7 linked regions of the Homo sapiens genome follow. The protein of the gene in region 1 purifies or fractionates together with the protein of each later gene. This does not show direct contact. Each region holds a gene or a part of one and is shown in the gene's direction. Other genes may lie near its edges.

Region 1 (2,998 bases):
TTATATAAAGTTAACATAACTGACGTAGAATTAAGGTCCAACATAAACAGAGAACAAATTAGGTCAAGTTAAACTCTGATAGCAGAGACTAATATTAGATATTGTGATTTTTCTTCGTAGGATAAGCCAGAGACATGGGAAAACCAATGGAAGTGTTTCAAAGTTCTTCTCTTTAATCACTTCTGTATCCAGCTGCCTTTGATTTGTGGAACCTATTATTTTACAGAGTATTTCAATATTCCTTATGATTGGGAAAGAATGCCAAGATGGTACGTAGATAAAAATTTGGCTTTTACACCCAATTGTGGCTTATTCAGTTAAGTTATACTTAATGTTTACCCGTTTTCTTAATTTTAGTTAATGTTTGTTCTAAACTTTGGAAGTAAATAAATAGTAGAAAAGTAAACCACAGTAAAATCTTAAAATGTTTCCATTTTTACATCTTTTAAATATTTTATTGGAAGGTGAGCTTCTAGTATCAGAAGTTTCCATAACGTCTTTTGTATGTTTATATACATGTATAAGTGCTTATGTTGACAAAAATATATTACATTTTAATTTTAAAATGAATGAAATATATGAGAATCATTTATGAGGTTTATAGAAATTGTGTTTACATGAACAAAAATATGTATGTGTATATATATATATATATATATATACACACATATATATATACACACACATATATATACTCATGCGTCACTTAACGGATATCTCTTGAGAAAAGTGTCATGAGGCAAGTTGTGTGAACATTGTAATGAAATGAAATTGGTCTAATGGGCAGTCTCTTTAACCTTATATCAAGTTATGTAGCTGTATCTGGTGGTTTTGAGAATTTATTTATGAATATATCCAATTAGGTCAACCTGGTAAGTGGGTGGGTGGTTTTATGTAATGTCTCAAGCAGTGATCCCAACTAAAAGTCTGGATAGTTTAAGTAAAAATTATTTCTTACACATTACAACATTTTTATCTTAAAGGTATTTTCTTTTGGCAAGATGCTTTGGTTGTGCAGTCATTGAAGATACTTGGCACTATTTTCTGCATAGACTCTTACACCACAAAAGAATATACAAGTATATTCATAAAGTTCATCATGAGTTTCAGGTATGTGAGAGTTATATTTAATTCTTTCTGTTAGAGGCAAAATGTCTATTTTAATTGCCTGAGCATTTTTCTAAAATTGTTGGTGACGTTTTTATTTTCTTTTCCTTTGGCATGATTATTAAGAACAATACACACACATACAAACAAGCCATTTCTACACATTGTTTTCATTATTTAAATTTCATGGTAAATTGAGATCTGAAAGAAAAATATTATATGAAAGTTCGGACTTCCATCCTTGTGGACAGTGCTACACTGGCACAGCTAGATCCTCACATTGCTAACTCCCACAAAAACAGTAACTTCTATGAGCACTGCTTTTTTTTTTTTTTTTTTTTTTTTTGAGATAGAGTTTTGCTCTTGTTGCCCAGGCTGGACTGCAATGGCATGATCTCAGCTCACTGCAACCTTCACCTCCTGGGTTCAAGCAATTCTCCTGCCTCAGCCTTTCAGGTAGCTGGGATTACAGGCATGCGTCACCACGCGTGGCTAATTTTGTATTTTTAGTAGAGACAGGATTTCACTATGTTGGTCAGGCTGGTCTCGAACTCCTGACCTCAGGTGATCCACCCGCCTTGGACTCGCAAAGTGCTGGGATTACAGGCGTGAGCCACCATGCCCGGCCAATTAGAATTGCTTTGATGTAGCTTTGTCAACTGGTTATGTGAGTATGTTTTGCATTGACCGTGATTACATGGTGTGCCAAATCAAGCCTCTCTTTATTAGAAGAACAAATATAAATACTTAAGTCAAAATTAGAGTTCAAGTCAATTATTTAATGCCTTTATCTTAAACCATCAAAGACAGCAAGATTTTATATCCCTAGACTTTTGATGTGGAGTAAGGTATTTTTATTGAGAATTGCTAGTATTATTTATAAGTGTATGACTAGATAAATCATCACTACATATAGAATCAATATAACTTTGTAAAACTTTATGCATAAATAGGATATATATATTAGTGAAGTCTCCAGTGAAGCAGAATCATTGGGGTATATATATGCAGAGAGAGATTTATTTTAAGGAATCAGCTCATGCAAGTGTGCGGCTGTCAAGTCTGAAATCTGTAAAGCAGGCTACAGACTAGAAATCCAGGTAAGAATTGTTGCAGCCTTGGGTCCAAATTCCATGGAGCAGCAAGTTGGAAACTCAGGCAGGGTTTCAGTGTTGCAGTCTCGAGAATCCTTCTTCAGGAAACCTCAGCCTTTTATCCTGAAGGCCTTCAAATGATTGGATGAAGCCCACCCTCATTATGAAGGGTAATCACCTTTACTCAGTCTACTGATTTAAATGTTAACAACATCTAAAAAATACCTTCACAACAACATCTAGACTGGTATTTAATCAAACAGTTGGATATCATAGCCTAGCCAAGTTGACACATAAAATTGACCATCACAATAGCTAAGAAATTAAGAATTTCTTATCTGTTTGTCTTAGGCTCCATTTGGAATGGAAGCTGAATATGCACATCCTTTGGAGACTCTAATTCTTGGAACTGGATTTTTCATTGGAATCGTGCTTTTGTGTGATCATGTAATTCTTCTTTGGGCATGGGTGACCATTCGTTTATTAGAAACTATTGATGTCCATAGGTGAGTATTAATTTCTGTTCAGGTATAAAGCATAATGAAATATATTTATTTTCATGGCCATAAGATTATCATATTTCTAAGGAGACTAATAGGAGAAGTTAATCTTCTTAATGTTATATTAAGAAAACATAACTGTTGGATAAAAGTTTAAATAATAGATGTTTTTACATTCTAGCCTATGCTGTTATAATTTTTATAGTGATAATGTGTTATTAGGGCAAGTATATATTCAGGACCAGCAATTTCCTTATCCTTCTGTAATAAACCTAAACTTAACTCATATTTGAAAAA
Region 2 (3,500 bases), on another chromosome or scaffold:
CTTGTCTCAAAAAAAGAAAAGAAAAGAAAGAAAAAGAAAGTAGGTCTCTTTGCAGAAAGCCTCAGGCCCTGAACTTTTGTGTCATCTTCTCATTACTCAAGTCTAATTCCCTACATCTCACTTTTACACACAGATCATTTTTTTCATGTTTGTTTTGATTGCCCACCCTGGAATTCTATTTCTGCACTACCCTTTAAAAGTGAAAGATCAAATCTAACGCTCTAATGTGGGAAAGCATTCCCTCTATTTCTACAAGCTTATTTACACAAAAAAATAAGCTTGAGACTGATCAAAAGCTGAATTTCTACCAAATAGGAACTTACTTTTTATGCCGTAAATTATCAAGGCCATCTCAAGGCAGAGGTGAGTTTAGCATCTCATGCTTTATGCTCCTTTCTTCTGCACCTACCAGATTTTTATTACATGTGAAATTATATGAACATAAACCCCAGGGAAACATTGAAGATGAGTGTGCCGTCACAAGTGACGAGGGGACAGATGAACAGGGAAGAGAAATGGGGCAGCAGCACTTTAGAGTGACTTACTTCTCTCTTGTTTTCTCCTCCCTGAATCATTTTCTAGAACCAGTATTGTGGCCCCTAAAATTTGGGGCTTAGGTCAGTCAACTTACCAAAGTTCATCTTCCTGGTGATGAAAGGACTTTCATCAAAATCCCAGCTACTTTTTATTCGTTCCCACATTTTGTGGATTAAGAAACTGAGAACCAGAATTTATAGAGATCACTCAATCAATTGGCATATTCCCGGATCACAACAAATTGATAAAATTCTTGAGAACCCTCTTTCTAATACAGATTGACTATAATTTTGTCTTTCATTTTTAGTTCTCTTATTTTGTCTCATGCACTGTGGATTATCTGGTTTACTGCAGTCCTTACCTGAATAGATGTCAGTGTTTTGATCCCATTGTTGTATTCCCCTAAAACACGTCAAATGAAAAACTGGACACTTTAATAGGTTTATTGTTAGCACTCTCTCATGCTGATCAATTCTCAACACATGCAGTTGTAGGATTAGGAAGACAAAATCCTTTAGAAGAAGCTATGAAACCTAATCCTTCTGCATCTGGATCATTTTAAACTACAAGTTGTAAGAGGAATGAGCATCTCTGGATTCTAGTTATCAGTGCAGACCAGATGGAAGGTCTTTATGAAATCTGGTATGAGAAGGAAAGCATTTTATAGCAAGAAGAAAATATTTTGAGAAATAGCTACCAGCAGCAGCAGCTAGCAGTTCTAAAACTCTCAGATCCTCCTAATGACCCCATTAGGGAGGGAGGAAGGGAGCAAGGAAGGAAGGAATGAAGGAAGGAAAGAAGAAAGGAAGGAAGGAAGGAAGGAAGGGAAGGAGGGAAGGAGGGAAGTGTTATAAATATTGGTCAGGGAAAAGTTTTATTATTAATGACAGATTAAATAATTAGCTACTAGGAAAATTCAAGGGGATACATAAAAATGCCATTAGAAAGAATAAGAGAACCCAGTAAGGTGGCTAGCTACAATAGCTTGCCTGGTTAGCGACAATATAATCATAGGGATTTATATTACGCTTGTACACTGTTGGGCAGAAAACATGCCTGAGAGGTATAAAAGATGCTGTTAGCATCCAAGAAAAATGGGAAAGGAAAGCCCACCTCATCTGAGGAAGATGGAGGAAGAAGAACCTACAGAAAAGGATTCCACATTCCAAACTCATCCCTCTGAATTCAGTAATATTTATCCTTATATGATTTCTGACAGTGTAGTTTGTCATTGTAATTAATTCTTTCCTGTAAGTAAACAAGAATTGTATACTTACTTAAGTACCTTACATTTTAAACTTTATTACATAGTCCTAATTTTAATGTTGAACTCTGCCCTAGTCAAGGAAGTATTTGTTACCTAACACAAGAATTTGATATACAGTCATCCATAAACACTATCCTACCATATAGTTCATCATAATTTAACATTCAAAGAAAGAAGCATGATTTCCTCTTTTATTATGCTTTCATTTGAGCCATTTTAACTTTCTTACCATTCTTTCCTTCTGAACCTAATTCAATTCCTTACACAATGCTCTAAAAAATCAAGGATTAAATATGTAACTTAATTTATAATTAGCAAATACATCATTTACAAGATGCATTCATATTGGCAAGCATATTTTATTTCATAGATTGTAAACTGGTAAAACAATGTAATCTCCTCACCCTCTCTGCAATACAGTAAGCCTGTTTCTAAGACCATCAAGGTTTTACTTTATGTCCGAGGCATTGGAGAACCAGACTGTACTGACCCCAGGGTTTGGTGACTTACATATAAATGAAGCATCTTACCAAGAAGGGATGAAAAATGACTTTAGAGGAAGCAAAAGTCTCAAAGCTCACAAGACTTGATTACTTTCAGCTTGGTGACAGAGGCAATGCTCTTGTGATGCAGATGGAGTAATTTCTCCAGCACAAAAGATGTCCAGCCGGGTCCCATTGGCTTTGAGATAATCTCTCACATTGCATTAAGTGTACTGAGTACCCTTTCTCAGACTTATGTACCATTAGCATGCATTTAATTAACAGTTAATGATTACATAGTATTGTTACTATTACCACATAGTCCTGTTATATTAAAATACATGAAATTTGTAGCTATGTTTTGCCTGTTTAGTAAAATGAGTCTGAATCTAAGGGTGAGAGGGTCTACACACAGCCAAGAGGATGGGGTATTAACCCAGGCCTGTGTGAAGATATTTGCATCTCATGGAATGCTCTCCAGAGAACAAACTGACCTACCCTGTGCATGTCAGCTAAGCTCCCGCCAGCTTCCTCAGGGCTTGCTGAATGTACAGTGAGTGCCACAGTGCCAGCGTGGCAGTGAAGCACAGGCCCAACTCTACGGACCTGGGGTCAGAAGGCCTGGGTTAATACCCCATTCTCTTGGCTGTATGAGCTGCATGGTCTGTCATCGTTACAATGGGGACAATAATACATGCCCTGTCTACCTCAGCCTCCTTTCAGGGAAGTTTCTCAAAACAGAATATGCTATTGTGATTCATTGTCACCTGTGATGTCAAACTGCACCTTGTGTTATACTACTAGGGGGTAACACAGCATGGGGCTCAAGCCCAAGCTCTCGAGTCCAGAAAGCCAGGTTCATATCCCAGCTCTGCCATTCATTAACTGCTTTCACATCTCTAAACCTCAGTTTCCTCATTTGTTGGGGCTCACATAACAGTACTATGTCATAGGGCTATTTATGAGGATTAAATGTGTGTATTCATTATTGCTAAATAATAAATTACCCCAAAACCTAATGGCTTAAAGCAACAGATTTTTATTATCTCTATGATCATAGTTCCATGGGTTGGGAATCTGGGTATGGCTTAGCTAGGTCCTCTGGCTCAGGTCTGTCACTCACAGGCTGCAAAGTTTCAGCCGAGACTGCAGACATCTCAAGGCTCAACTGGGGAAAGGTAACGCTTCCAAGCTCGCTCACGTGGCTGTTGACA
Region 3 (3,500 bases), on another chromosome or scaffold:
CTCTGCCTCAAAAAAAAAAATAAAATAAAGTAAAAAAAGACTGCCTGGAAGGAAGGAGGCTGGAAGGGCAGCTAACATTTCCTGACTGCTTCTCCTGTGCCAGGATCTGTCGTACCCCATTTGCCCCATTTAATTCTCACATCAACCCTGTGAAGTGGTTATCCCCCTTTTACAGATGAGGCCCCCAACCTCAGGGAGGTTGAGTAAAGCATGGGGAGGTCATATAGCTGGTAAACACAGACTGAGTCAAACTCTGCCCAACCCTAAACTCTCTCTACTACACCAGTGGTGTTTTCTTTTTTTTTTTTTTTTTGAGATGGAGTCTCACTCTGTCACCCAGGCTGGAGTGCAGTGGCACAGTCTCGGCTCATTGCAACCTCTGCCTCCCAGGTTCAAGTGATTCTCCTGCCTCAGCCTCCCAAGTAGCTGGGACTATAGGCGTGTGCCACCACACCCAGCTACTTTTTTATTTTTAGTAGAGATGGGGTTTCACCATGTTGGCCAGGCTGGTCTCAAACCCATGACCTCAGGTGATCCGCCCACTTCAGCCTCCCAAAGTGCTGGGATTACAGGCGTGGGCCACCGCACCTGGCCTACATCAGTGGTTTATAAAAACTATTTTAAGTGGTGGTAATCCCAACACTTTGGGAGGCCAAGATGGGAGGATCTCTTGAGGCCAGGAGTTTGAGACCAGCCTTAGCAATAAAATGAGATCCTGCCTCTACCAAACAGACAAAAACCAAAAACACTCACACAAAACAATAAGCATTCTTTTATTAAAGCCCAATATGTAAAAGATAGTAGCACGGCTAATCCTCCCTCTGACATGAGGCATTGCCTCTAAAGCCCTAAGGCTCCCGGGAGAACAACTTGAAAGACCTGTATATTAGTTTTCTATTGTTTCTATAACAAATTACCAAAAACTTAGTGGCCTAAAAAAACACAAATTTATTATCTTATAGTTCTGGAGGTCAGGAGTCCAAAATGGATCTCACTGGGCTAAAATTAAGCTGTCAGCAGGCCTGAATTCCTTTCTAGGGGCTTGAGGAGAGAACTTGGTCTTTGCCTTTTCTAGCTTCTGGAGGCCTCCTGCATTCCTTGGCTTGTGGCCCCTTCCTGCAGCTTCAAAACCAGCAGTGGCTCGTCGAGTCTTTCTCACATGACATCACTCTGATGCTGACTCTCCTGCCTCCCTTTTCTGTGTTTAAAGGGCCTTTGTGATCACATCGGGCCCACCCAGGTAACCCAGGATAATCTCCCTGCTTTAAAGTCAGCTGATTAGCAACCTTAGTCCCATTTGCTGCCCTAATTCCCCTTTTCCATGCAACTTGACATATTCACAGGTTCTAAGGATTAACACTTGGACATCTTTGGGAGCCTTTATTCTGCCTACCACACCTTGCACTACCCTCTTGCCCCCAACCAGAAGTGCATAGATGGAGGCAGGAGAAAGAAGAGGAGGGAGGCCAGACTTGGAAAGATGAGGCTTGTCTTTGTGTTTCCTTTCATAGAGAAGTGCCCAGGTAAATCAGGAGGTGGCCCTAATGTCCTTGGACCTTAGCAGCCTCTCTTTTGCCTCAGATTCCTGGGGCTGCAAAGCCTGGGGTCAATCAGAATAGGAAGCCAGGCCTCAGGCAGAGCAAATTTTGGGTAGTTCCATCAACTGGCAAGAGCATTCCCACTTGCTTTGGGGTAGCCTTCCCAGTTGCTTTGGGGGAACCAGATGAGCTGGGCTCATCTCCTTTCTAAATCACAGAAGATTCAGATCTCAGGAGTCCATTTGGCTGGGTCAGTAGTGAGTTGGCTCAAATTTGATGGACTGATACACAACTCTCAGAGCTCATTTCTTGCCTCTGACTCTTCTTTTTTTTTTGAGACAGTCTCCCTGTGTCAACTAGGCTGCAGTGCAGTGGCACGATCTTGGCTCACTGCAACCACCACCTCCTGAGTTCAAGCAGTCCTCATGCCTCAGCCTCTTGAGTAGCTGGATTATAGGCACTTGCAATCATTCCTGGCTAATTTTTGTATTTTTAGTAGAGACGAGGTTTTGCCATGTTGGCCAGGCTGGTCTTGAACTCCTAACCTCAAGTGATCCACCTGCCTCAGCTTCCCAAAGTGCTGGGATTACAGGCGTGAGCCACCATGCTTGGCCCCTTTGAGTCTTCTAATAATAATAATAAAAATAATGGTAATGGTGATAGTGGTTGCCATTTTGGGGGTGCTTTCATGTACTAGGCCTGTGTAGGGCTTTAGGGCTTTTTTTTTTTTTTTTTTTTTTTTTGTGGGGTGGGACCTTGCTTTGTGGACTGGGCTACAGTACAGTGGTGTGATCATGGCTCATTTCAGCCTCCCGAGTAGTTGAGACTACAGACATGCGCCACCATACCTGGCTAATTTTTAAATTATTTTTAGAGACAAGGTCATGCAGTGTTGCCCAGGCTGGTCTCAAACTCCTGGGCTCCAGTGATCCTCCTGCCTTGACCTCCCAAAGTGCTGGAATCACAGGTGCAAGCCATTGCTCTGAGCCTATAGGGCTTTTTATATACACTTTATCCTGTAATCTTCACAGCCACTCTGTGAGGTGAACGGTTAGTCCTAGTTTATAGATGAGGAACCCAAGGCACAGACGTTAAGGAATATGCTCAGAGCTCATGAGTGGCAGGGCTCAAATCCATACCCAGAGCTGTCTCGCAAGGTGTTCTGACTCTGGCTCAGTTGTTCCTAGATGAGAGCTTTCCTGCTCCAAATTCTCCCCTCCCTGTAGCAGATCAATTAAGGACTGCTTCACTTGTTATGCCAAGTGCTGACACCACAAAGAGGGTGAGTAAGTTCCTCCAGGAACTCAGGCATATAGAGACAGAAGGCCGGTTACCCAAGGAAGAACTTGTCCCTCCTTCTGAGCCTTCCTTGACTTCCCTGATGAGGTCCCTTTCTCCCTGTGATATGCTTTCCTTTGTAACAGTTAACACAGTTGATAGGTCACATTTATTGAGTTTAATTATTCAGTTAATTGTTATCCATCCCTTGGCACTGCCCTACAAGTTCTGTGAGGCACACAGATTTTGTCTTCTCCTCCTTTACTGTAACTCCAGTGCCTAGTGTGGAGTGTAGTATGGAAGTATGACTCCATAGAAGTATGAGTACTGTAGGTACTCAGTACCTATTTGTCCTCTGGGGGAGAGCAGTGGAGATTTAGAGCAAGAGAGCCTCTCATCTAGGAGCAACTGAGCTAACTGGAATGAATGAATGAGGGCCAAAGAAATGGTAGAGTCAGGTGCTTCAAAATTAATGAAGGGGCCTGGCGTGGTGGCTCACACCTGAAGGGGCTCACACTGTGGCTCATCCCAGCACTTTGGGAGGCCAAAGCGAGCAGATCATCTGAGGTCAGGAGTTCGAGACCAGCCTGGCCAGCGTGGTGAAACCCCATCTCTACTAAAAATACCAAAAAAACTAGCCGGGGCATGGTGGCAGATGCCTGTAATCCCAGCTACTCAGGAGGC
Region 4 (4,181 bases), on another chromosome or scaffold:
ACAGGATAGGCTGCAAGGAGGAATCAGGCATGATGGAAGCAAAATGGCTTTCTAAGAAGCAGTGGGAGATTGGAATGGCTAAAGTAAGATGGGGTCAAACATTTCCTGTAAATTAAAGACAGGAACATAAAACATATCACTTGAAATTTGTACACATTTCATGTGACTGAACACTTTGAGGCAATAAATCTTGACATACTTTTTCAGGGGCATGAGTTAATGTGGCTAAAGTTCAGATGAGGTGAGGATCAGATATTGGAAGAATGGGAATCCATATTAAGGACTTTGGATTTGATGAAAGAGTCCATTTATGGTGTTACTGGAAATATTTCACTAGGGCTGGAACATTGGCCTGCGGCTGGCACACAGGATGAAGGTGGAATAAGTCAGGGAGACCACTTAGGAAGCTGCTATGATAGGCCAAAGTGGGAAGCTGAGTACCTGGACCAAGATGGAAGCAGCAGATTGGAGAAAGAACACATCTGAAAGTCGCTGTGGAGATGGAAATGATAGGACTTAGAAATCACATGGGAAGAGCCAGAGAAAGTCCTTAGGTTTCTCCGGGTAACTTAAGCATAATAGGAACACTATTAGAAGTTCATGTTCCCATGAAAGTTCCTTACCTGTGGAGCCTCCCATGCCCTCCTGGTGAACCTCCATTTCTAAGGAAACCCTATAGCATTTACTGAGTATCTTAATTCTCCAAAAAATCAGACTTCTCCAAAGAAAGTCTTTAAGCATGTATTCACTAACTTGATTTTGCAAAATTACGTTAGCAAATACGTGCTATAAGGTTTCTAACCCGACAGACAAAAGCATGTAAATCATTTTACTGCTAGTTTTGGTGGAGGGTAGTGACAACTGCCAGTGTTTCAAAAAAGAGTAACATATCCAGAGTTTGTTCACACAGAAATGAATGCTTTTTAGCTTCATAACCCCTGTGCCCTTCCCGTGAGCCCCATCTCCCCAGGAAACGATATAGTACCAATTTACTAACTTAATTTGTAAAAGGAGGTTAGTGAATCAATTCTGTAAGACTCATGGAAATATTTGAAATTAATTAGCCTTGTCAGCTTTTATTTGCATAGGCTCTCTTCCAACCATATCCCCCAGCCCAAGTACAACGTTTTAGTAAGATTGATTTTAAACAATGAGACTTAGAGAATCTGTGTACAAGGAGCTTGAATAATTTAAATGCGTGGGTTTATTATTAACACAGTAGCAAATATATCAAGGAAACACGCCCCATGAAAAGTGTTTCAAAGAAACACAAATCTGTACTGAAAAAAGTCTATACGCAATAAGTAAGCCCAAAGAGGCATGTTTGCTTGGCGATGCCCAGCAGATAAGCCAGGCAAACCTCGGTGTGATCGAAGAAGCCAATTTGAGACTCAGCCTAGTCCAGGCAAGCTACTGGCACCTGCTGCTCTCAACTAACCTCCACACAATGGTGTTCGCATTTTGGAAGGTCTTTCTGATCCTAAGCTGCCTTGCAGGTAAGGAAAGGATCTCCAAACCACCAAATATAATTGGAAACAGAGTTTCCTTTTAAATAAAAATTCCACATTTTTACATAGAATTTTCATCTCCTGTACTTCAAATGAATTGTGATTAGTATGATGAGTTAATTTTCAGAACTCTTGCTTAGCAAACATATGCCATGCTGATATATTAGGGGTGTAAGCCCATAATATTATTGTTTTATGGAGCTTCTGAATGAAAATTTTCTCAGAAAAAAATATAGTTTATTACTTTACTTACTTTGAAAAGTGAAAAAAATGAATTTACTCAGAAACCAAACTTTGTGCTAGGGATAATTTTGTCTCTGTTTTACTTACTTTAGTGTTTCCTTTAAGCTCAGTGATTGACTTGCTCTAGCAGGCAGAGCCTGGGTTGGAGGGCCTGCCCTGGCTTACATATGGGAAGAACAGAAATTTACTGAGTACTTTACTGTCTAATATTTCTTAAGGAGTTGTGGTTTTCCAATCCTAAGACTGTATTTTGCAAAATATGTGAGTGATTTATGGTGCACAACATGGGTGATTTTAGGTATCTGAACAGAAGAAAATCAATTTTGGAATCAAAATACTGATGTTAGTTAGATCCAGGAGAGATCATTAATTCCAAAAATCCCTTGGGTAGTTTTCAAATATCAGATACATTTTGCATCTGTTCTTATAAGTTAGGTCCATAGTAAATACAATAATATTGTTTATCCAAAAACAGGATTTTCAAGCCATTAGTAATATTAGGCAGTGGTTAGAATGAGGTTTACTAGGCGTATTAATGACATAAGAAAATACCCACGATAAAATATTAAGTGAAAAAGCAGGATGCACACATATGCCTAGAATAAATTACTAGAAGGTTATATACCGAAGTGCTCATGGTGGTTGCCTCTGGGTGATGGGATTATAGATGATTTTAATTTTATTTCCCAGCTTTTCATACTTCCTGGGTTTTCTACGAAGAACATTATGCTATTTTTATAATTAGAAAAAAGTGTTACTTTTCAAAGTGATCTCATGTTTAGAAATAGTTCTTTAAATGTTCATTACTAAATGTTTAAGCATAGATGTTTTATGGAGTTAAACATCACCAGAAGGCAATACTCCATTTGTCCAGTGACCTAACTAGGCCCTAGAGCTGGAAACACATGTTCCTATTTTCCCTTCTCCCCAGGCATATTCATTTAAATGTAACTTTAGATATGGAAGTTTTGTCTCTTCTTAAAGGGTTTCCAGTCATTAGCCAGTTGGGTCGACCCCTGGGCCTTCTGCATCAGCCCTCTAAGATCATACCTGTTTCCCTATGTGAAGCCTTGCCCTGGCCCATACTAGGCACAGGGTTTGGAACGGTTGTTAAGAACAGTTTTTTTTTTTTTTAACTGTACCTAACATACAAGTAATTTTTACTGATTATAAATGTAATGCATGGTCATTGTAGAAAGGTTGGAAATATGGAAATTTAAAATAAAATAAAAATCATCTGCAATTTTACCACTCAGATTTGGGTGAATTATTATTCTTTTATTTGCAGGTGTATATATTACATTTTAAAAATTGGGTTTATTCCTTGTATACTTTTTTATTGTTTAAAAAAATTGTTTAGCATCATGTCAGGATTTTATTTTATTGTGACTTTTAGAACAAGACCAATAAATACTTCAGAGTGTGTTTCCTAAGTTACTATATAACTGATTTTGTTGGTATATAGTGTACACTATATATCTACACACATATTATCTAGTTGGCCCAAAGCAGTAGTGTCAGTACAGCAAATTGTGGTATGCTCTATTGTCGTTTGCTGTGCTTACATATGTATTGAAGTCAGAGAAAGGATCACTTTAGTAATCTACACCTGTCATTAGCAGTGTTCATCAGTTGATCTGGACAACTGATAGTGTTTCCATCAATGTGCAATTTGATGTTCTTCCTGGACTTGTTTTGGAGAGAATGTCACTTTTTGGTGTTAAGCGTGGTGCCTAACACATAGTGGATGCATAGTAAATGTTTGTTGAAAGAATGAATTACTTTCCCAAATTCCAAACATCCAGACATCATTTTCACATACATATTTAAAATTGATTTTGATATAACTAAACAGGTCAGATTTTGCTTAAATCAAAATATTTTCAATGACTTCTTAGGAATTCTTAGGTTAAATTCTAATTCAGGAAAACGAGTTTTAATCAAACTTCTGCAAAAAATTTATGCATATCATTTTAGGTATTTGAAATATGTATTAGTCACCTCTTAGAAAGATATGTTAATGTGGGTTTCATTTTCTGGAGGTATATGCTATGCATTTTAAAGGAGTAATATATTTGAACTTTGAGTTTGCACTCAAATCCAAAAAAGTGAGTGATCATTTGATTATATTATTTCCTAAGTCAAAATGAATCTATTATATATGAAGTTGCTGGAAATTAAATCACTTCAAATCTATCAGATTAAATATGAATATTTGGGGGATATTTTGCTGTGGTACATTAGGAGGATAATAATCCTTCTATAAGCAAAATGTTTGCCACCTTGTAGGCATTAAATGAATGAACAATCACCACCAAAATACAAGACATTCTCTCTCTCTCTCTCTCTCTCTCTCTATATATATATATATATACATATATATATACATATATATACACATATATATATACATATATATATACACATATA
Region 5 (3,500 bases), on another chromosome or scaffold:
AACCAGGCTGTCGTGGGGCATAGCCTTCCAGGAAGCCCGTCCTGGGCTTCCCTGAAAGACAGACACACAGAGTTCCATGGAATGTCAGTCTGAGAAGATAAGGACATTTAACAAATTAAGAAAGTCATGAGTATTTAGACAATAGAACTAGTCTGGGAGGGCCTTAAATGTCAGCCTGAAAAGTTAAAACTGCTTCCTTTTGGCCATGGGCAGTGACAGAAAGTTTCTAAGTAAGGAGTAGATGATGTCCCTGCAAAATGGTGTTTCAGGAACACTCTTGGCACGTTGTTCAACACTGGGAACATTCTGTCTCTCATGCAGTGTGTGAATTAAGGACAAAATGGAATTTTGAATTTAAGATGTGAAAGCCTTTGTTTTCTACTTTGTCCTCTTACTTTTAGACAGGGTCTCACTCTGTCGCCCGGGCTGGAGTACAGTGGTGATCATGGCTCACTGCAGCCCTAAACTCCTGGGCTCAGGCGATCCTCCTGCCTCAGTCTCCCGAGTAGCTGAGACCACAGACGTACACCATCACACCTGACTAATTTTTAATTTTTTTTTTTTAATTAGAGGCCGTGTCTCACTATTTTGCCCAGGCTGGTGTCAAACTCCTGGGCTCAAGCAATCCTTCTGCCTTGGCTCCCCAAATTTCTGGGATTATGGGTATGAGCCACCGCACCCAGCCCTACTTTGTCTTTTTAGATGGAGCCACAGATGCTAGTGTTTTGGATAGACAGGGCTTCACGAGCAGTGTGGGACAGGGAAGGACCCAGAAGCTGGGGGTCATTGGAGAGGCTGAAATTTCAGATAATTTTTGCATTAGTTTTAAATGAAATTTCGGATAATTTGATTCTAAGTCCTGTATAGAAAGAGAAATTAAACTTAGAGACTTCCTAAATAATAGCACTACAGATTTTACATGCAAAGTGTGGAGGATTACCTTTTACAGCAAGTCAGGCAGAGATTTGGGACCAGGGACTTCTCATGGGGTATATAGGTGGAATGATAACCTCTGCATCCATTCCCAGTGGTAATCTTCAAAAGGATGTATTATAAGTGGTAAATTTCCCTTATGCTCTGTGGCATCTCAGTTTAGCCAGTGGAAAGACTTTTTATAAAGACTTATGCTAAGAGCCTAATAACGGGCCTGAGTACAGAGCTTAATAGTGGGCCTGAGTATATGAGGCTGTAGGGCTGGAATCAGCCATGCTCACCCTCTGGTCTCTGAAAACACAGTTCCATTGTCTGGCACTTAGATGAGTTATTGTCACTGAGCACCATGGCCTGAAAAGTATGGGCATTGTGGCTAAATAGGGTGTTAAGTGCCACCTATCCAGCAGTCCAGCACCTGAGTGACTCCACTGGGTTTGGGGTACCTGAAAAGCAAAGTGTCCCTGTTATCTACTGCTGCATAACAAATCACCCCAAAACTCAGCGACTTAAAACGACAATAACCCGTCATTCTCTCTCTCAGTTTCTGTGGGTTAGGAATTCAAGAGTGGCTAGCTGGGTAGGTCTGACTTGGGTCTTGTGGTCATAGTCACACCATGGCTGGGAGCATCTTGAAGTCTCCACTCGCATCTGTCTTCTGGGCTGAGAAGCTTGCTCAGGTGGGGACTGGGACAGCCGGGGCTCCTGGGGGGGCCTTTCCATCTCTGCATGGTCTGTACAGCAGGGTAGTTTCAGGGTAGCCAGACTTCTTACAAGAAGGCTTAGGGCTCCAAAGGTCCCAAGAGAGCTGGGTGGAAGCTTTATCTACCTTGGAAATCACACAGCAGTACTTCCATCTTACTGTATTAGAGCAATTACGGCCTGTGCAGATTCAGGGGGGTGGCATAGAGACTCTCCTTGATAGCGGAGTGGCAGAGTTCTGGAAGAGCACGTGGGACTGGAAAGAATGCTGTGGTCGCAGATCGTGGGTCTGGAGGCCAAGGTGTACACCCCACATTGGGGCTGCTAGCATCATAACAGTCCACCCATGCTTTGGGGCCTCAGCAACTTCTCATGTCTGTAGGTCCTGGCAAATGTAGCCTACATCATCATAGAGTCCACCGAGGAGGGCACGACTGAATATGGCTTGTGGAAGGACTCTCTATTTCTGGTCGACCTGTTGTGTTGTGGTGCCATCCTCTTCCCAGTGGTGTGGTGAGTAGCTCACAGGGAGGGAGGCCACATGACAGCTTGGCTGTCAAGCCCAATAGCTGAACTGGCCATTCCCAAACTGATCTCAGTCACATGGGACGTGTGTTTAAAAGTACAGCTTTCTGAGTCCCAGACTGACCTGAATCAGCCTCCAGGGGCAGAACCCTGTGTCTTTTTCCAGTTACTCGGGGTATTCTGGCAGAGCTAATCCGTCACCATGAGCTGGCATTTAACAGAGTTCTAAGACAATAGAGAGGAATTGGGAAATGAGAACTTGGTAGTAACTTAAAGTAGCAGCCTGAATTTGTGGTGGTGGTAGGGAGTTGGAGAAATCCCATAAACAGCCAGTTCTTGCCAACTTAGGTGGAAAATGAGGAAGTTCATTAACATAAAACTAGTGATAGTTCTCAGCACACAAACATTTTTGATGTTTTCAGAATGGATTGCTCCATTCCTGGAAATGGCAGTGTTTAGATGCACAGATTGTGCATTGGGTCTGTGTAAAGAAGTGTTAGTGTCAAGTCAGTGGTTGATGAGAAAATATCCTTATTAAATCACATGCAGAGTGGTAGAAATTCAGAAGGCTAGCAGCAATAAAACACTTTACCCTTAGTGATATAATTCCATGGCTATTGGAATGCAATTCTTTTGAAATAAATTTTAAAGAAAATAGATTCACCCCGGCCTTCCATTACAAGTGCTTCTTTTTTTTTTTTTTAACCCGAGATGGAGTTTCGCTCTTGTTGCCCAGGGTGGAGTGCAATGGCTCAATCTCGGCCCACTGCAACCTCTGCCTCCTGGGTTCAAGTGATTCTCCTGCCTCAGCCTCCTGAGTAGCTGGGATTACAGGTGCGTGTCACCATGCCTGGCTAATTTTTTTTGTATTTTTAGTAGAGACAGGGTTTCGCCATTTTGGCCAGGCTGGTCTCAAACTCCTGACCTCCGGTGATCCACTTGCCTTGTCCTCCCAAAGTGCTGGGATTATAGGCATGAGTCACCGCAGCTGGCTGAGGTGCTTCTTATTGCAATGCCCCATCCAGTAAATTAATATTTTTGAGGATCCTGGGGTTTGTCAGTTACTCTCATTATTTATAACATGGTGCAAATGGAGAGTACTTCTCATTCCAGCCAGTTAGATTCACTCTTCACCCTCATTCCATCATACATCACACATGATCTCGTATCAGTTCAGCAGACAGCTACCAGCATAGAAGAGAGTATGAATGATGCTCCCACCTCAGCCTCCTGGGTAGCTGGGACCACAGGCACACACTACCATACCCAGCCAATTTTTTGTAGACAGGGTTTTGCCATGTTGCCCAGGCTGGTCTCAAACTCCTGGGTTCAAGTGATCTTCC
Region 6 (3,500 bases), on another chromosome or scaffold:
GAAGGAAGAGCTAAAATAGAATTTTTAGCACATCTGCACAATAATATTCAAGAATTCAAGGCATCTAACAGAATAACAGTTTCCCCTGAAATGATTTCAGGTAATTTCTCTGAACATATTTTAGGGCAATAAAAATATTATAAATCTTCTTAAATTAGTTTAGCTAAAGCTTAGCCCTACCACACTGTTTTATTTTCCATTTCACAGTGAAATACACCATTATATATACATATATGAGAGAGAGACCATTTCATTGACCACATGCATGGCTATAGAATTCTCTTTTTATTAGCAAACTGAGTTCTGCACCCATTTTGCGGTATGGGTTGATGGCTCAGAAAGAAGCGCAAGTTTTCTTTTTAAAATAGCAATTCCTAAATGCCTTTGCAGCAAATAAACTTGTAAATAAGAGCTTTATTTCCTTCCTTTTTATACTGTTAAAGGAAATCAGACATTAGTATTAATGAATTGCTCTGAGTGATCACGTCATGAATCTATTAGTTTTTTTTATCTTAATTAAACAGTTAATTTAATGCTTTGTGGCTTGTGGGTAGATTGTTCTAGCATTTTTGGTTGGTCAATGACTCCCAGAGGTCTAATAGGCCTGTATCTTTTAGTTTTAAATGTAATGTTAGTCTAAAATAGATTCAGAAAGAAGTTGATTACTTCATTCTTGAAGGAAGTAAAACAAGGAAGATCTGGTGTCTCTCCAACAAATATTTTTTGAAACTTCATTTTGAAAAAGCAGAAATGAGCTGGTTTCTCAATAGATTTATTTATTTAGTCATTTCATCATACCTCTATATCTATTTTTAAAATCACTATGTAAATGGAAAAGAACTTGTATGGTAGAATTATGCGCCCAAATGACTATTCATTGATACAATGACTTGCTCTCCAAAGTATTATTTAAGTTAGCAAGGGCAGATTCTTTAGTTTGGAGGATTATTACCCACCTCTCACTGGGTAACTGTCTGTGTCAAATTTTCCTGCTTCTACTACCAAACCTCAGCCAATTTCCTAAATTTCACGTAAGTAAATCTATAAAATTCACTGTCCATATTTATCTGCCAAATTAGTGAACTGTAAGATGAAGATGAATAAAGAAAAGCCTGTAAGAATTATGGAATTTCAGCAATGGCTTAGTTGAAATTCAGCAAGAGAATTTCAGTTGAGGGCTTAATGTACATTTAACACTTTGTTGGATGCTAATGAGGTGAAAAACATATTCTACAATACTTCCCTAAGGAAACAAATAAGTACTGTTAGACAGTAAAGGCAATTCAATGTAATAATGTAGTTTTGCAATTTATGGTATAGGCAACATTGATTTCTCTCTTTCCTACTCTCTCACTCAGGATGAATGAAGAAAAAAATGGTCCAGTCATTTGCTTAACTCAGGCCTCAGTTTCCACAACTCCAAAATGAGAGCCTTATACTAGGTAATCTTTCTGTAAGGATCCTTCAAACTAACCTCTTTGTTATAAACAGATACAGAATACAGAAACCACTGAGGTTATATGACTGACTTCCCTAAGGTTACAAATATAGAGTCACAAATTGTATAATATATAAAATGGGGAAGAGAACATGGAGAAAACTCCCACAAATTTTATTAGGTTGGTTCAAAAGTAATTGTAGTTTTCACCATTGTGGTTTTCACCGCAATTACTTTTGCACCAACCTAATTCAGAATTTAAAAGTGAAAAACATTTGAATGCTGAGAAGATAATACATTGTTATAAAGTAATTTGAATTTTTACCATAGATTTATACTTTACTTTGGGTAAGTGCCATTTTCAGAAAGGCAGCCAAATTTGTACAAACATAGTGGATATTCTGAGTCTCTTGATTGAGAATGAAGCAACAAGATCAAATAAAAGTTCATTTGTTTCTCTAGTATAATACAGAATACATTTATCACAACACTTATAGAGTGAGAAATTATTAAAAAAACACTCTATCCCTTCTCCCAGATTTCTTTAATTTCTTATGATAATTGAAATAATGCTTGTCCTTCCTACCTTGGATTCATTCGTGGATAACTTTTCTTAATTATTCCCCATTTCAGTCCATTAATACAGCTTCAGAATTATTTCTGAAAAATGTTGTTCAAATGTGCCACCTTTTAAATTCCATTGTGATTATAGACTCTTAGGGTTAGTAATTGAAAGCTCATTTCAGACAACTCCCTATCTCATGTTTGAACTCTGCACATCTCCCACTCTCTTTACAATGGCACCAAATAATGCTACCCAATTCCTGGGCAGAGCATAGATAAGGCTAAAAGTTGTCAGCTACCAAAGTAGCTGCTGAATATCAGAATGAAACCCAGGGACTCTAAAGTGGGTTATGAAGTGATGAGCTTCAGCTAACAGGGAACATTAGGAAATGACTGCAGACAAATCCTCATGCTTAATTCAGAGAAAGATGTACGGTTTGATTGGAGGGGGTGAGGAAGAAGGATATCATACAGACTATAAAGCCAAGAAGCAATGCTTAGAATGCAAATGTGTTATAATTTTGTGTGTGCAGTGTAAAAAGACTACTGGCCATATTTTAAAAAGTCATCTAGGTTACACTCACATACTTAAGAACACCAGAATTTCCATTTTAAATTTTAAGAAAATAGACATAATTGTTTGCACCTCTTACATGGCACTTAGCACATTGTATTACATTGTTTTTTCCTTAGATATGGAGTCTTGCTATGTTGCCAAAGCTGACCTTGAACTCCTGGGCTCAAGCGAACCTACTGCCTCAGCCTCCTGATTAGCTGGGACCACAGGTGCATGCCACTGCACCTGGCTTCTATCGCATTTTATTTTTATTACTTGGTTTTTAACTTATACTTTAGAGGCAGGCCTGGTGTTAAAGGTTTTACATGCATCACGTCACTTTTAAATTTGAGTCTTATCTTTCCTACTGGATTATAAATTCACATGGAACAAAGATTATAATTTATTCATGTTTATACTCCCCAGCTACCGTTTGCATATATCATTACATATTGTGGCTTCTCTCAACATATATTTGCTGAATAATTAATATACAAAAAGACACAAGCACTGTGGGAAAGGTATTTATAGTGCAAATTTGGAGTTAACTAGAACCTAAGTTCTAGTCTGTTATAAGCCTCTATGTCCTCCTCCGCCAAAAGAGAAAATCAGACTGGATGGTTACTGAGATAATTTCAAATGCTACAACTTTAAGAAAATATCAACAGTTTCTAATTCTGAAAATCCACTTCAAATAATAATACTCAGGTAGTTGATTTTATGCCCCAGAAGATTAATGGTTATGACTCTTCAGCTACTTAAGTAATTCTTATAAAATCTCAAGTCAATATTCACTTCAGGTCTCTAACTTGTCATTTTCCATTCACTCCAGTGCCCTACATTTGAAATGATTCATGTCTTAAAGATTTCTGAGTGATTGAAGACATGTCTTCTTTTTGTCTTTTGTTATTTAAAGTAAATTTAAGATATCTTTGGCTATTA
Region 7 (3,307 bases), about 69 Mb from region 1:
TATTAAAAGAAGTGCCCAAAATAACACCTGCAACTAGATATAGAGAAGGCAGCTGCTTTGAACATGTAATAGGGACATTTGGGTAAGAATTTATCATTTGCAAATAGGCAATGGATATAAAACAGAGCATGCATTAAGGTGAATGGCTTAATATTCTAAATAAAACAGGATCCCTAGTTAGGGTTGGCTTATTGGGGCACAAAATCGCCTTCCTGGTAAAAGCACAAAAAGAGAGAAATGATATGTGATCTTTGTATCCCTTGGTCTAAGGCTTCTCTTCTCTTGTGATTGAACGGTTTCCAGTGGCATAAGCAAACTCTGTTGCTCTCTTGTAGTCCAAACTGTGTATTGTTTGGTGGGTCACTTTATAAGAAGTAACACTTTCTAATGGTTACTACATAAAAAGGCACTATAAGAACATGTTTCTAGATTTCCTGGACTAAGGCTGGTCCAGTTTGATTGATATGAAAGCAAAATAAATAAATAAATAAATAAATACCACCTGAAAGTCTATGGAAACCTGCTGAAGACATTTTTATAGAAAACCAAAAAGAAAAAAAAGAGGAAATAAACAAAAGGAAGAGCAAAAGTGAAGTAGTCAGAAAATAGGGATAAAACTAGGTAAAAACAGAGATTCAGAATTATTAAACAGAGTAAGGAAAAGTGGAATGTCACAAACTACAAACTTTTTACCACAATCTGCACCTCAACCCTCTCTCCCTGCTTCCAATTTTCCCACACCAAGCAAAGTTTATTACTGGGTTTAAAGTGTTATCCTCAGGCCGAGGTTTGTATACATTTTCCCTCCCCACTTCAAGTGTCACAGGTGCTAGACGCCATCAGGATAAATGTGGCATATTATTTGAGAGTACTGACTTTTCTTTAAAAGGGGTTTTTGTTAACGTGCGTGTGCTTGTTTTGTTTTTAAAGTTAATTAAGCTACAAATAATTTACAGCTTTGTTGTTACCTTAAAATACATATGGCACATTATGGAGCAGGATAAATATTCATACCTATTTTAAAGATCAAAAACAAGACATTAAAGAAATATTGGTAGGAAGAAATACCTTTGGACTAACTCTCAGAACTCTCATGTGCCTTAGGGACTGAGTTTGTTCCTTTCTTCTATTTGATACGCTTGTCGGGAAAGCTTGAGATACAGTGCTCCAGGGTTTAACAGGGAAAAGGGACTCAGATTATTGAGGTTCAGCAATGACGGCGATTAGGATGCCCTGTAGTTTGCCCAAGTCCTCCAGAAAAGGAAATCACTTTTAGTCTTCATTTTACAGCTGGCAGGCACTGTACAAATCAGTCAGCTCAGGCTGCGTGGCCCATGTCCCAGTGCTGTGCAGGACCTGCCTCTATCACCCGTGTGCACTGCCCGGATGGTGCCAAGCGCATTGGAGCACCGGAAGGAGACGCGGAGCCGAGGCCAGGCCTTCCGGCGGTCGTTACGGGACGCCGCTGCCATCTACAGCACTCCGTGAAGAATATGCTGGCCGCCTTCATCTCCCGCGTGTTGAGGCGAGTTGCCCAGAAATCAGCTCGCAGAGTGCTGGTGGCATCCCGTAACTCCTCAAATGACGCTACATTTGAAATTAAGAAATGTGATCTTTATCTGTTGGAAGAGGGTCCCCCTGTCACTACAGTGCTCACTAGGGCGGAGGGGCTTAAATACTACAGGATGATGCTGACTGTTCGCCGCATGGAATTGAAGGCAGATCAGCTGTACAAACAGAAATTCATTCGCGGTTTCTGTCACCTGTGCGATGGTCAGGAAGCTTGTTGCGTGGGCCTTGAGGCCGGCATAAACCCCTCGGATCACGTCATTACATCCTATAGGGCTCATGGTGTGTGCTATACTCGGGGACTTTCTGTCCGATCCATTCTCGCAGAGCTGACGGGAAGAAGAGGAGGTTGTGCTAAAGGAAAAGGAGGATCGATGCATATGTATACCAAGAACTTCTATGGGGGCAATGGCATCGTCGGTGCACAGGGCCCCCTGGGCGCTGGCATTGCTCTGGCCTGTAAATATAAAGGAAACGATGAGATCTGTTTGACTTTATATGGGGATGGCGCTGCGAATCAGGGGCAGATAGCCGAAGCTTTCAATATGGCAGCTTTATGGAAATTACCTTGTGTTTTCATCTGTGAGAATAACCTATATGGAATGGGAACATCTACTGAGAGAGCAGCAGCCAGCCCTGATTACTACAAGAGGGGCAATTTTATCCCTGGGCTAAAGGTCGATGGAATGGATGTTCTGTGTGTTCGTGAGGCAACAAAATTTGCAGCTAACTACTGTAGATCTGGAAAGGGGCCCATACTGATGGAGCTGCAAACCTACCGTTATCATGGACACAGTATGAGTGATCCTGGAGTCAGTTATCGTACACGAGAAGAAATTCAGGAAGTAAGAAGTAAGAGGGATCCTATAATAATTCTCCAAGATAGAATGGTAAACAGCAAGCTCGCCACTGTGGAAGAATTAAAGGAAATTGGGGCTGAGGTGAGGAAAGAAATTGATGATGCTGCCCAGTTTGCTACCACTGATCCTGAGCCACATTTGGAAGAATTAGGCCATCACATCTACAGCAGTGATTCATCTTTTGAAGTTCGTGGTGCAAATCCATGGATCAAGTTTAAGTCCGTCAGTTAAAGGGAGGCTACGTGTGAATTTATCATCAGTCTCTCAATGGAATGTTCATGGTCAAATTTAAGAAACTGTGTTCTCAACTCAAGGAGGAATAAAACTCATAAAACAAAAGCCTTGTAAGCATTTATTAAAAGAGATTATTAAAAGAGATTGAAAGACATGCATTCAATAAAAGTGATATTATATTCAATTATACTGTATATTTTTGCATTAAAAGATACTATATAGGTAACAATTTAGTGTGAATATCTTAAAGATTATTTTGAACTTATACAAGTCTAAAATAGGAAAAGGAGATTATTTAACTTCCCAAACTGTTTGTCATAACAGTTCCATTTGATTTAGCTTTATACTATTTTAATGCATTCTCTTCTTTAAAAGAAAGTTGTTTCCTGCTTCCCCTGCCATGGGTTTCTATGTAGAATCACCATCCTGAGGTAAGGAGATTATTTCAAGCTACTCAGGACACCTATGGATATGTAACCATTTACTTGAATTACCTAATAACGAATACAGTTTAGTGTAACAGTGTGCGCATGCGCACACCCACACACGTGGTGCTGAAGTTTGTTAACACTGACCGTTTTTCCAATAATATATGATATTTAACAGGGCAGGGGAGGAAGAACAAGGATTTTTTTTTTTCATAT

The links.
Region 2: the proteins of MSMO1 (region 1) and HTR1E purify together in Homo sapiens (co-immunoprecipitation; one large-scale study listed by IntAct). This does not show direct contact.
Region 3: the proteins of MSMO1 (region 1) and PACC1 purify together in Homo sapiens (co-immunoprecipitation; one large-scale study listed by IntAct). This does not show direct contact.
Region 4: the proteins of MSMO1 (region 1) and VSIG1 purify together in Homo sapiens (co-immunoprecipitation; one large-scale study listed by IntAct). This does not show direct contact.
Region 5: the proteins of MSMO1 (region 1) and GPR107 purify together in Homo sapiens (co-immunoprecipitation; one large-scale study listed by IntAct). This does not show direct contact.
Region 6: the proteins of MSMO1 (region 1) and HTR2C purify together in Homo sapiens (co-immunoprecipitation; one large-scale study listed by IntAct). This does not show direct contact.
Region 7: the proteins of MSMO1 (region 1) and PDHA2 fractionate together in Homo sapiens (co-fractionation; one large-scale study listed by BioGRID). This does not show direct contact.

Annotation. Positions count from the first base shown.
Region 1 is NC_000004.12:165,337,669-165,340,666, forward strand, and holds part of MSMO1 (methylsterol monooxygenase 1), read left to right. Parts: intron 1-120; coding exon 121-269; intron 270-983; coding exon 984-1,110; intron 1,111-2,552; coding exon 2,553-2,707; intron 2,708-2,998. UniProt on the Homo sapiens protein: Catalyzes the three-step monooxygenation required for the demethylation of 4,4-dimethyl and 4alpha-methylsterols, which can be subsequently metabolized to cholesterol.
Region 2 is NC_000006.12:86,940,528-86,944,027, forward strand, and holds part of HTR1E (5-hydroxytryptamine receptor 1E), read left to right. Parts: intron 1-3,500. UniProt on the Homo sapiens protein: G-protein coupled receptor for 5-hydroxytryptamine (serotonin). Also functions as a receptor for various alkaloids and psychoactive substances.
Region 3 is NC_000001.11:212,404,887-212,408,386, reverse strand, and holds part of PACC1 (proton-activated chloride channel), read left to right. Parts: intron 1-3,500. UniProt on the Homo sapiens protein: Chloride channel gated by pH that facilitates the entry of chloride ions into cells upon exposure to extracellular acidic pH. Involved in acidosis-induced cell death by mediating chloride influx and subsequent cell swelling.
Region 4 is NC_000023.11:108,043,684-108,047,864, forward strand, and holds the start of VSIG1 (V-set and immunoglobulin domain-containing protein 1 isoform 2 precursor), read left to right. Parts: upstream 1-1,381; 5' UTR 1,382-1,447; coding exon 1,448-1,496; intron 1,497-4,181.
Region 5 is NC_000009.12:130,102,406-130,105,905, forward strand, and holds part of GPR107 (protein GPR107 isoform 3 precursor), read left to right. Parts: intron 1-2,014; coding exon 2,015-2,145; intron 2,146-3,500. UniProt on the Homo sapiens protein: Has been proposed to act as a receptor for neuronostatin, a peptide derived from the somatostatin/SST precursor.
Region 6 is NC_000023.11:114,590,586-114,594,085, forward strand, and holds part of HTR2C (5-hydroxytryptamine receptor 2C isoform a precursor), read left to right. Parts: intron 1-3,500. UniProt on the Homo sapiens protein: G-protein coupled receptor for 5-hydroxytryptamine (serotonin).
Region 7 is NC_000004.12:95,838,658-95,841,964, forward strand, and holds PDHA2 (pyruvate dehydrogenase E1 component subunit alpha, testis-specific form, mitochondrial precursor), read left to right. Parts: upstream 1-1,435; 5' UTR 1,436-1,493; coding exon 1,494-2,660; 3' UTR 2,661-2,807; downstream 2,808-3,307. UniProt on the Homo sapiens protein: The pyruvate dehydrogenase complex catalyzes the overall conversion of pyruvate to acetyl-CoA and CO(2), and thereby links the glycolytic pathway to the tricarboxylic cycle.